3 linked regions of the Homo sapiens genome follow. The protein of the gene in region 1 interacts with the protein of each later gene in a pairwise test. Each region holds a gene or a part of one and is shown on either strand. Other genes may lie near its edges. The genes, in order: ZNF366, PINK1 and PEX1.

Region 1 (3,731 bases):
TGAGATAAGAGCCAAAGTTCATTTTTTCTTTTGTTATGGATATGGAATCGTTTCAGTACCATTTGTTTAAAAGACTATTTTCCCCTCATTGACACCTTTGTCAAATCAATTGAACATATACTGAGAGTCCATTTCTGGACTCTATTATGTTCCCTCATTTAGTAGGTCTGCACAATATTCCATTGTACAGATGCCCTGTACTAATTTAACCAGTCTGTTATTAATGGACAATTGTGCTATTTCTAATTATTTTCTGTCCAAATAATGCTGTGGCAGATACATTGCATTGTAGGTATGTCTTTTTACATCTTATTTATATAGGATAAATTCAAGAGGAGTCAATGTTACATTTTGATAGACATTCACAAATTGCTGTCTGTAGATGTTCTGCTAATTCAGTTACACCAGAAATATCTGAGAGCTCTCTCCAGAACCCCAGAGATAAGTGTGTTAACAAATGTTTCATCTTTGCCGATCAAGTAAATAAAAATTGGTATCTCATAGTTTTAATTTGCTGCTTCTTATTATGAATTAAAATATCTTTTATTTTGTGCATGTTTATAAGCCAACTATATTTCATTTTATGTGAAGTATGTGTTTCATGTCATTTGCTCATTTTTCTGTTTATACTAAGCTCTTTGTGATACATGTTGCAAATGCTTCCTCCATTTTTTGTTTTGTTTGTCTTTTGGCTTTGTTTATTGAGTTTTGGCCCTGCAGAAGCTTTTTATTGTAATGCAATAAAATGCATGATAAATGTTAAGGCCTCTGCGTAAAACTAGAAAGGCCCTTCCTACTCTGCGATTCGAAAAAAAAATATCTCTACAGTTGTTATGTTTTCTTTAAGACTTTTTAAAGCAAAATTTTAAGTTCACAGTATATTTTTATTTTTAACATTTTAAGTCTTTCATCTATCTGGAATTTATTTTAATTTAAAAAATCAAGTAGGAATATAAGTTTATTTTTTTCCCAAATAGCTACCCAGTTGTCCCAATCTCATTAATTACATAATTCAACTTTCTCCGCTGATATACATGTTATTTTTATCATGTACTAAATTCCCATATACATTTTAGTTCACTGATCTGCCATCCATTCATGTGTCAGTACACACACTCAATCCTCTATTCTCTGACTCCAAGTAGCATTCTTTCCTGCGTTACTCACATTCTCAAAACAACACACAGTAAGTGAATGAAGTGCTTTATGAATTGCTAGTAGTAACACTTAAATCTTCTCTCATTTTCTCCCTGCCCCCACTAGCTAACAATATTCAAACTCTTTTTAACATCACTAAGAAAAATATAATTAGGACAGTAAATCTGTTTGGAAGTTTAAGAGATTGAACATCAGATACTACATTCTTGAGTCAAACAATTTGGGGCTAACCCATTGGCTCATAATCTTTTATAACAACCAGTGATTTTGGGTAGGCAGTGTGTGTATGTATACACAAGTGTAAGGTACATGTACCATGTACCTAGCGATAGCACTTCAGCAAACCACTGCTCCTCCCAAAATATCCATATTGCTTGAAGAGCAAATACATTTGGCATTTTATGTCCTAATCCTTCTGAAATGGGATTTTCTCACCATTAAATGTCCTTCCCAACTGCATGTATTAAAGATGTGATGCTGAAATTTCTCTCCTAGGAGACTCAAGGGGGAAAAGAGTCAATGTCAGTCATTCTAAATAGTGGGATGTGTCTGAACATATGGAGGATGTGAAGACACATGGAATGGGACTGCCTTCTGCAAAATGATGCAGTTTTGAGCAGAACTTTGTTACCCACAAAACTGGTGTCTCTATTCCTTCACAAACATCCCCATTTAGATCTGAGGCCCAGGCTGCCACCAGAAGAACTCTCTGCCCCTGGAGACTTCTCCCCAGCCAGAGACAGGTGATTGTGCCATGAAATCACTGGGTGCTAGGAGGGCTGCAGACCATGTTGGAGGAAACGCCTGCTTGCCTGCTGCATCACTGATTGTTTCCTGAATATCAAGAAAGACGATGCTGGGAATAGTCCCTCCTTGCCCAGATCTCTGAAAAGCCAGGTAGGAGGTGAGATTCTGGATATGCCTGCCAGCAACCTTTCAGAACTTTTCACATATTCCTCACCCTAAGAATTCAAATTCTAGCACTTCAGGAATCCTGCCTTTTTTTTTTTTTTTTTTTTTTTGAGACGGAGTCTCGCTCTGTCACCAACCCCGCCTTTATAGATTAAGCATAGAACTCTTTGGTACCCTAAAAATGTTCAATATATAGATTTTTTAGGATAATGCTAGAAGACCCTTCTTTGTACTTAAAAAAGAAAAAAACAACTGAAAAAGTTCTCTGGAAGTAGGGGTGAGAGGAGGAAATTCCACCGTGTCGTGGGAAAGAAAATGCCTGAACTAGAAAAACAGCAAGAAACAAGTGGTGGACACTATGGAGGTAGGCGTTCCATTAAACAGCGCTGAAAACCTGAAATTCCTCATCTCCCTGCACTTTCCATGGAAGGTGGCCAGAGGGCCTCAGTCACGGGAGAGATGCCATGGGCTCCATCCAGGCAGAGGCCCCATTTTGTCCAGGCTTCAGCAAACCAGAGGCGATTCCGGTCCTCTCCCTCGCTCTCTTCCGGCGCTGCTTCCTTCCCCCACCCCTCCAACAATAGTCTCCTCTTGATTTCTGTTCCAAGAGAGAACGGTGAGTCCCCAGTGCAAAGGAAACTCTAAGGATTCTTTCCACAGAGTTTTCTCACTGGGAAGAGGGAGGCGTGTGGACTGGCGTCTCCTCTTTGGCTGTGATGCTGGAGAAGCGGGTCCTCCCTTTCTCCCTGAGGAAGACACAGGGCAGACAGCAAGATTTCTCATCCTTATTCTCAAGCATTCAAAGGAAGAAAGCGGCAGAGTACGTTTTCTTCCTGGAAGAACTCTGCGGTGCCCTAATGTGTGCACTATGGTTTTAAATGTTTTTTTCAAGCTACTGAAAAAAGCTAAACTATTTTTTAGGGTAATCTGCCTGAAATACTCATCACTACCCTCCCTGGGGGCTTCCTTACCCTGAGCCAGCAGCTTGAATAATAAGCAGAGCCTTGGTCCCCTCTTCAGCTTTGTTAGATCTGGGGAAAGGCCTAGAAATCTGCCCCAGGTAACTCTGATGATTGGTGCTCAGAAAGCACCTGAAAATAATACCCTCGCCCTTTCTGAGAGTGCTAGGATCCCATGATATGGAGTTAACTTCATGGGAGAGATCACAGAAATCATGCCTACTGTTGCTCAGAGCTGAATAGATTGGAGACTTGTCCAGTAATGCCACTATTTAATAGGGAGGTATGTTGTCTTGGACAAGGTCAAAGTTAACAAATGGCTTTGTAACTCCTTGGAATAGAGTCCTACATTCCCTGATCAATCTGTGTGCAACAGTCCAAAACCATAAGGCAGTGCTGCTCAGACTTGAATGTGCAACTGGTCACTTGGAGATCTTGTTAAAATGCTGATTCTGATTCAGTTGATCTGCAGTGGAGCTGGGATTTATTCTGCATTTCTAACAAGCTCCTAGGTGGTGCCATGGTGTTGGTCTTTGGACCCCATTTGAAGGCTACTACCTTAAAGGATACATATTTGTTTTAAAGAAATTATTAGCTACAGATGACACTTTTTCCTTATAAGGAAACTGAAAACAAGCAACATTAATTTACTGACCTTGAGCAAATCACGTACTTTCTGTAGTTTATCTGTTAAACAAGGTG
Region 2 (3,500 bases), on another chromosome or scaffold:
CACTCGGCTCGCTGGGACCAGCTCCTGGCTCATTGTGTTCAAGATGGCTTCGCTGGAGGAACCTGCCTGGAACACCCACAAGGAACCCAGGGTTACACAGGCCGGAGCAGAATGGTAAGTTCCTTGTAAGCCCTGCCTGTAACCTGGAGCAGGGCAGCTACTGCCTAGAATTGGCTCTGACCTTCGAGATAAGATGACCTGTCTTAACTGGCAGGCTGAGACTAGTTACTCCTGGGAGGCAGACAGAGGTACCATCCATGCCAACTCAGAGGATTCTTCACACTCCTCAAACTCTTGCAGCCTAGATGCCAGGGCTGGAGGAGATGCCAAGGTGATCAGGATATGGGGTGCTGCTTCCTGCCATCGGTGCCTCTGGTCCCCACCAGTTCAAAATTGACCACTGGATCACTAACTCATTCTGCAGGCTCCCTTCAGCAGCCAGGCCAGAGCCTGACATGCTCCACCCTGGGTGAAGTTGTACTGAATCACAGAACAGCCTTCCTCCATCCCCCACGACAAACAGACAAAAACCAAAGAGTGGGGAAAGCACCTTATTGTCCTCATTGTATTGGGAAGGGCTCTCAGGACATATGAAACCTGTATCAAGAAGATCTGGTAAGAATCAACAATCTTGTAGCTGCTGTGAATGCAACAGCTGTCATGCCCCAACCAGGGCATGTTTTGATGCTAAGACTGGATGTTTCACAGGCAAAGGATTTGGCTACTTGTTAGCTATTAACCCAGCTTGGAGTGCAACAGTCTAATAACCTTCATTCCCCAAATCAGAACAAGAAACTGCATCCTCTAGGGCCCACCATGAACGGCTGTGGCCACTTCCCACTGCGGCCTTGAATGGATGGGCCCAGGGATGGGCAGGAGACAGAGCATCGGGTCTTAATACATTTTTAAAACCTACCTAGCAATGGCAAGGTAAATAAATTAAGTGGACAGAAATTGTTTTCGTGGGGGAAAAATACTCTTCAATTTCCCAAAGTCTTGAGTCCTTCCAAGAGTTGAGAGTAGGGAGTTGACATGCAAGCCTCTGAGCTGGAGGTGGGCTTGCAGAGTGAGCTTAAAGGAAAGAGATCCAGTTCCCCCTCTCCAGTGAGGCAGGTTGCAGGAAGGAGGGGATGGTGAACTAACCAATCAAGGTAGAAATCAGTGGTTTAGGCACTTGTTACTCAAAGTGTGGTTGACAGAGCAGTGGCATTGGTATCACGTGGGAGCTTATTGGGAAGGCACAATCTTAGGCCCCATCCCTGACCTGCTGAATCAGAATCTACCTTTGGGTTTTTTTTGTTTGTTTGTTTTGTTTTGAGACAGGGTCTTACTCTGTTACCCAGGCTGGAGTGCAGTGCCACAATCTTGGATCACTGCAGCCTCTGCCTCTTGCACTCAAGTGATCCTCCCACTTCAGCCACCAGCCACCCAAGTAGCTAAGACTACATACAGGTGCAAGCTGTCACACCCGGCTAATTTTTGTATTTTTCATAGAGATGGGGTTTCATCATGTTGCCCAGGCTGGTCTCAAACTCCTGAGCTCAAGTGATTGGCCTCCCAAAGTGCTGGGATTACAGGCATGGTCCACCAGGCCTGGCCAAAATCTACCTTTGAACCTGATCTCTGGGTGATCTGTGGGCAGAATACAATTTCAAACATTCTGGTTTAGACTTCTGTGTAACAGGGGGAGGTAACCTGACTATACAGGCACCTTTCCTGTGGATAATCTGTCTTTTCCTACCTACTTCCTGGAAAAAATCCTCACCAGGCCCACTAAGATGGGCATTTTGAGAACATCTCCTTTAAAGATGAAAGGCCTGGTGCTTACCGAGATGTTCCACATCATCTTGATGGCCAAGGGGAAGGCAGGGGCCCCCGGAGCTCGCTCCTGCCCTTCTCCTGGTGCACTGGTACCTGGGCCTCTCCCTGGAAGCAACCCGGTGCTCTTTGTCACCTCCAGGTTCTGGGGCAATGTAGGCATGGTGGCTTCATACACAGCAGCACTGCAGCCCTTACCAATGGACTGCCCTATCAGATACTCCTCCAGCCGAAAGCCCTGCAAGCGTCTCGTGTCCAACGGGTCAGGCCCCGGCTTGCTTTTCTGGGTAAAAATTGCCTGTGATGAGAAAAGAATGCACCGTGAGCCAGGGAGCCTAGGAAGGCCCAAGAAAAGGGAAACAGGGGAGGCAGAGAGAGGTGCAGCAAGGCGTGGTCCACGTCGACCAGATCAATAAACCAGAAAAACACAACCCAACCAGGTTCTACTGCTCAGCCTGGGTCCAGGCCATCTTCTTTCTCATTATTCAGAATGATTTTTCTCAAACTCTGTTGCTTCACTGGGATCACAATACTCAATGATCTGAGAGGTCAGAAACCCCACGTCCCGCAGCCAGTGCACCTCTCCTTGCTGCCTTCACTCTCCAGCAGAGTTCTGGAGGTGTCTGATTATGGAGACAGCTCGCTCTGCAAAGACCTTGGCTGACGGCTCCTGGGCAACTAGCAGGAGTGTGTGATCCACAGTGATCTCAGAGGGTCTCTCAGGCAAGTGGGTGACATCAGGCGCATCCCCAGAGCAGAGGGATTCAGTACTGTCTTTCTCTCTCTGCCTCTTAGGGCCCCGATGAGGCTACTCTGTCCAGAAAGGTAGCAAGAGTACAAGAGTTCAGACAGAAATAGATGGAGGTGCAGGTGCTGGGGGCAGTGCTGCACTGGGAAAGAGGCCATGTGACAAAAATCTGGTGGGTCTTCCCCTGCTTCAGGCAGCGGTGACGTCACTCTTCCAGTCACCCAGGCTCCGCTTTCCCTCTCAAATGGTCTGATCTGCTGAGCTCTTCCTTTCCAAGGTTAGTCACCCCTGGGTGCCAGGCACAGCTCTGCATATGCCCCTTGGCCATAGCCTACCAGGCACCATCTCTAGACTACCCCACTCTCAGTGCCGTGCCTTCCCTGCTCTGAGCCACATCAAAATATGTTGCTTTCATGTGTCACTCGGCTGTCCATCAGACTGCCCAGGAGGTTATCTGTGTTCTGGCTGCTGCCAGGCTGGTCTGCACGCTGCCTGCACTCATCCTTTGGACGCCTCCCTCTGAAAGCTGCTCACAGCATCCTTCCAGCCCCTGTTTCTATAGTATTGCTCTGTCTGGCTCATCCCTGCTCAGCCATCAAGCCCAACTCAAGCTCCTCCTTCCTCTGTGACCAGCCCTGATGACCCAGCCCATGGCAACTTTCCTTCTAGAGGGTTCCTAAAGCACCTGCTATCTGTAAGCAACTTAACCTTGCACTATAACTTTGAACCTTTTAAAAAAATGAAAGTCCAGGCCGGGCGTGGTGGCTCATGCCTGTAATCCCAGCACTTTGGGAGGCCGAGGGAGGCGGATCATGAAGTCAGGAGTTCAAGACCAGCCTGGCCAACATAGTGAAACCCCGTCTCTACTAAAAAATACAAAAAATTAGCCGGGTGTGGTGGTGTGCACATGTAATCCCAGCTACTCAGGAGGCTG
Region 3 (3,731 bases), on another chromosome or scaffold:
TTGCATTGAGTGGAGATCGCCACCACACTCCGGCCTGGGCGACAGAGTGAGACTCCGTCTCAAGAAAAAAAAAAAAATTATCTATATATATATATATATATATATATATATATATATATATATATATATATATATATCAATAATGATGTTAAAAATTTTTCTCAACTTCCCAAATATAAGTAAGCACTGAAAGACATAAAGACGACTTTACTCTCTATTAACTTCTAAAGAGCAGGTGCAGACATATTAATGGTAGACAAAAGCATAAATAAAAACTCTAAGGTACATATTCTGACTTAAAGAGAATTTAACAATCAAGTTTCCTGTTTGTTTGTTGTTTTTTTTTAATCACCATGCTTCACAGGGTAATAAAGGTTCAAGTTAACATGAATTTGTTAGTTGTATCACCAAGTGATCAATTTTGATCTCTCAAGCCAAGTCCATTTTAGTACCTGATTTCACCTACTGTGACTTCTCATTGTCCATGGCTCTTCAACCTTCAGTGGAGTGGGAAGGGCGGAGTCCTTATTGCTATCTTAATCACAGGACTTTACCATCAGCACTTCTCCCTGTTCTCACCATATAATTTCAAGGAAATAAAAGGATATTCCCATCTAATGACAGAACCAGCTAAATCATAAGCTCAGTGTTAGATATTTTGAATTTGAGGATGCAGTGGGATCTCCTGAACGGACAGTTTAAAGCTAACAGAAAATAATGATCTGAGGCCAGGCACAGTGGCTCACGCCTGTAATCCCAGCACCTTGGGAGACTGAGGCAGGCGGATCACTTGAGACCAGGAGTTCAAGACTAGCCTGGCCAACATGGTGAAACCTCGTCCCTACTAAAAATACAAAAATTAGCCAGGAGTGGTGGCGCACACTTGTAGTCCCAGCTACTCTGAAGGCTGAGGCAGGAGAATCATTTGAACCTGGGAGGTGGAGGTTGTAGTGAGTGGAGGTGGTGCCACTGCACTCCAGCCTGGGCAACAAAGCAAGCTTCTAACTCAAAAAAAGAAAAGAAAAGAGAAGAGAAGAGAAGAGAAGAGAAGAGAAGAGAAGAGAAGAGAAAAAAGAAAAGAAAAGAAAAGAAAAGAAAAGAAAAGAAAAGAAAAGAAAAGAAAAGAATGGTCTGGAGCTTTAGAAAATGATGTAGGCCGGCCAGGAGCAGTGGCTCATGCCTGTAATCCCAGCACTTTGGGAGGCCGAGGCAGGCAGATCACCTGAGGTCAGGAGTTCCAGACCAGGCTGGCTAACATGGTGAAACCCAGTTTCTACTAAAAATACAAAAAATTAGCCAGGCGTGGTGGTGCATGCCTGTAGTCCCAGCTACTCAGGAGGCTGAGGCAGGAGAACCACTTGAACGTGGGAGGCGGAGGTTGCAGTGAGCCAGATCATGCCACTGCACTCCAGCTTGGGCAAGAAGAGTGAAACTCCATCTTGTGGAAAAAAAAAATAGAAAAGAAAATGATGTAGGCCAAAGAGATTAATGCTTTGTCAGTTATTTGTATAAAGGTCACAGGTAAAACTGTTGGAGAAAAAAAAAAAATCTACAAAAGGAGACAACCTTCTCTTTCTATTTTATTCTCTTTCCTAACAAGTTCCTCTCTTTATCACTATGAAGTCTTACTTTACAGTGGTTCAAATTTAGGTTCCAATAAATGGACTAGTGACTTATGTCATATAAAGGTAGCATTAATATTTGTGGCCAGGATGAGGGGCTGGAGCACTAGTTGCCCTGTCTACTTCCTCTCCGTTATACACAAATTAAAGAGCAGACACCGGCAGGGTAAGCAGCTCCTGGATGCATTCCAATCCAGGTGCCACCACATGCAGCAGGAAGGTTACCTCATGCCATGGATCTCTCCCTACACTGGCCCTTTTCCCTAATATTAACAAGTTGCTTTCGGTAACTGGGGAACAAATCTGCAAGCATTAAAGATGGGAGGCTTTGTAGGGCACTCCATCCTGATGAACCCCCAAGTCAATCTGCCTGGGTTTGAATCCTAGTTGTAACACTAGCTATGCAATCTCAGGCAAGTAATTTTGACCTCTCTGGCCTGAACCTATCTAAGCTTGTACCTATTCAAGCTTACTTGGCCAGAAAACATACAATCTTTATCCAAACAAGGACTTTACTGCAAAGCGTAAATGTGTCCCCCAAGTGCCTTTAGGCACTGTGTTTCTTTTTAATTGATTTTCAATTTATATATGAAATACTATTCTAATTCATAATTTGGGGATGTTTAAGCCACATAAAATTTCTCCCAAGTTATAAAATTTATACTAACCCAGACTTTCCCAAGATGGAGAACTTCTACATTTTTGGTATATTTGATGGCATTGTTCAATTCTTCAAGTCCATTCCAGACTACTTGTAGCACACAGGCCTTCTCATCTTCTTCATTATGATCTGACCTAATTTTTTTTTGATCTAGTGGCTCTGACATCTGCTTCTCTTTTTCAGGTGATAACACATTTTGTTTTGTTTTACTTTGCTGTTGCTTTGGAGAAAGTAGCTTAACTAGCTTTCCATATGTCACAGTAAAGCTGGGCTCTACATCAAAATATTCCTGGTCCCATGGAAATACATGAATGGCACAGTGTTTATGAAAAACAGAGGTTGCTGACGCGTTATATATACTAGGAGGTTGAGATTTGCATACTCTGAAAATATTGTCTAGAGGAACAACCTTTGACTGCATATTTTTGAATGCATTGATTTCAGTTAAACCCCAAGATGTCTCTTGTTTCTTCTCAGATTGAAAGGAAAAAATGCTTCCTATCATAGTCCATAAACTTGCTACTGATGATGAGTCAACTGGAATCTCTGACTCGTTTTCATTAGATTCAGTGATTCCCACAGTATTTGACTGAAGTTGCTTGGTTTGAAGTTCTTTCATCATTCCTTTCTGGTCTCTTCCATAACTATGAAGTTTTTTATATTCAGCATCAGCTTTTGAAAATGTATTCTCTTTGGCTCGGCGTGTCTTTGGCTGAATAAGGAGTTTGGTGTCAGTTTCCAGCCTTCCATAAGAGGCAGCTGGTATTAGTGCAACTGTGTAGAAAATAAAGCTCATTAGTGCACATTCATTTCTACTTTGGACTCAATGCTATAGTGTAGAATATGACAGCAAATATTACAATAGCACCTACCAATTTGGATAAATATGTACGTTTGTTGATCAACCCAAACAGGAAAAATGGCTTTTGGAAAAACTATTCGAATTTGATCTAGAAGATGTTGTTCAAGGGAAACAGCATGCAGCTCCTAGAACCAACAGACGAAAAGATCAATTCACTTTACATTTTGTCCACTCCATATCTAGTTAAAAAAAATCTCAATTCTTTTTTTAAAAAACAAATTTTAATGTGCATATTTAATATACACGACATGGTGTTATGAGCTACATATAGATAGTATAATGGTTACTATAGTGAAGTAAATTAACATATACATCATCTCACAGTTACCCACTTTTGTGTTTTTGTGGTAAGAGTAGTTAAAATCTACTCATTTAACATGAATCCCCAATACAATTTTATTACCTATAGTTGTCAGGTTGTACATTAGATCTCTATCAATTCATTCTTTTTTTATTTGAGACAAGGTCTCACTCTGTTTTCCAGACTGGAGTACAATGGCAAGATCCTGACTCACTGCAGCCTTGACTTTACGGGCTCAAGCGATTCTCCTGCCTCAGCCTCCCAAGTGACTGGGACTAATGGCAT

The links.
Region 2: the proteins of ZNF366 (region 1) and PINK1 interact in binary tests that used the Homo sapiens proteins (3 or more experiments, as listed by UniProt).
Region 3: the proteins of ZNF366 (region 1) and PEX1 interact in binary tests that used the Homo sapiens proteins (3 or more experiments, as listed by UniProt).

Annotation. Positions count from the first base shown.
Region 1 is NC_000005.10:72,497,323-72,501,053, forward strand, and holds part of ZNF366 (zinc finger protein 366), read right to left. Parts: intron 1-3,731. UniProt on the Homo sapiens protein: Has transcriptional repression activity. Acts as a corepressor of ESR1; the function seems to involve CTBP1 and histone deacetylases.
Region 2 is NC_000001.11:20,636,458-20,639,957, reverse strand, and holds part of PINK1 (serine/threonine-protein kinase PINK1, mitochondrial precursor), read right to left. Parts: intron 2,117-3,500; coding exon 1,829-2,116; intron 67-1,828; coding exon 1-66. UniProt on the Homo sapiens protein: Serine/threonine-protein kinase which acts as a sensor of mitochondrial damage and protects against mitochondrial dysfunction during cellular stress.
Region 3 is NC_000007.14:92,514,986-92,518,716, forward strand, and holds part of PEX1 (peroxisomal ATPase PEX1), read right to left. Parts: intron 3,271-3,731; coding exon 3,156-3,270; intron 3,058-3,155; coding exon 2,291-3,057; intron 1-2,290. UniProt on the Homo sapiens protein: Component of the PEX1-PEX6 AAA ATPase complex, a protein dislocase complex that mediates the ATP-dependent extraction of the PEX5 receptor from peroxisomal membranes, an essential step for PEX5 recycling.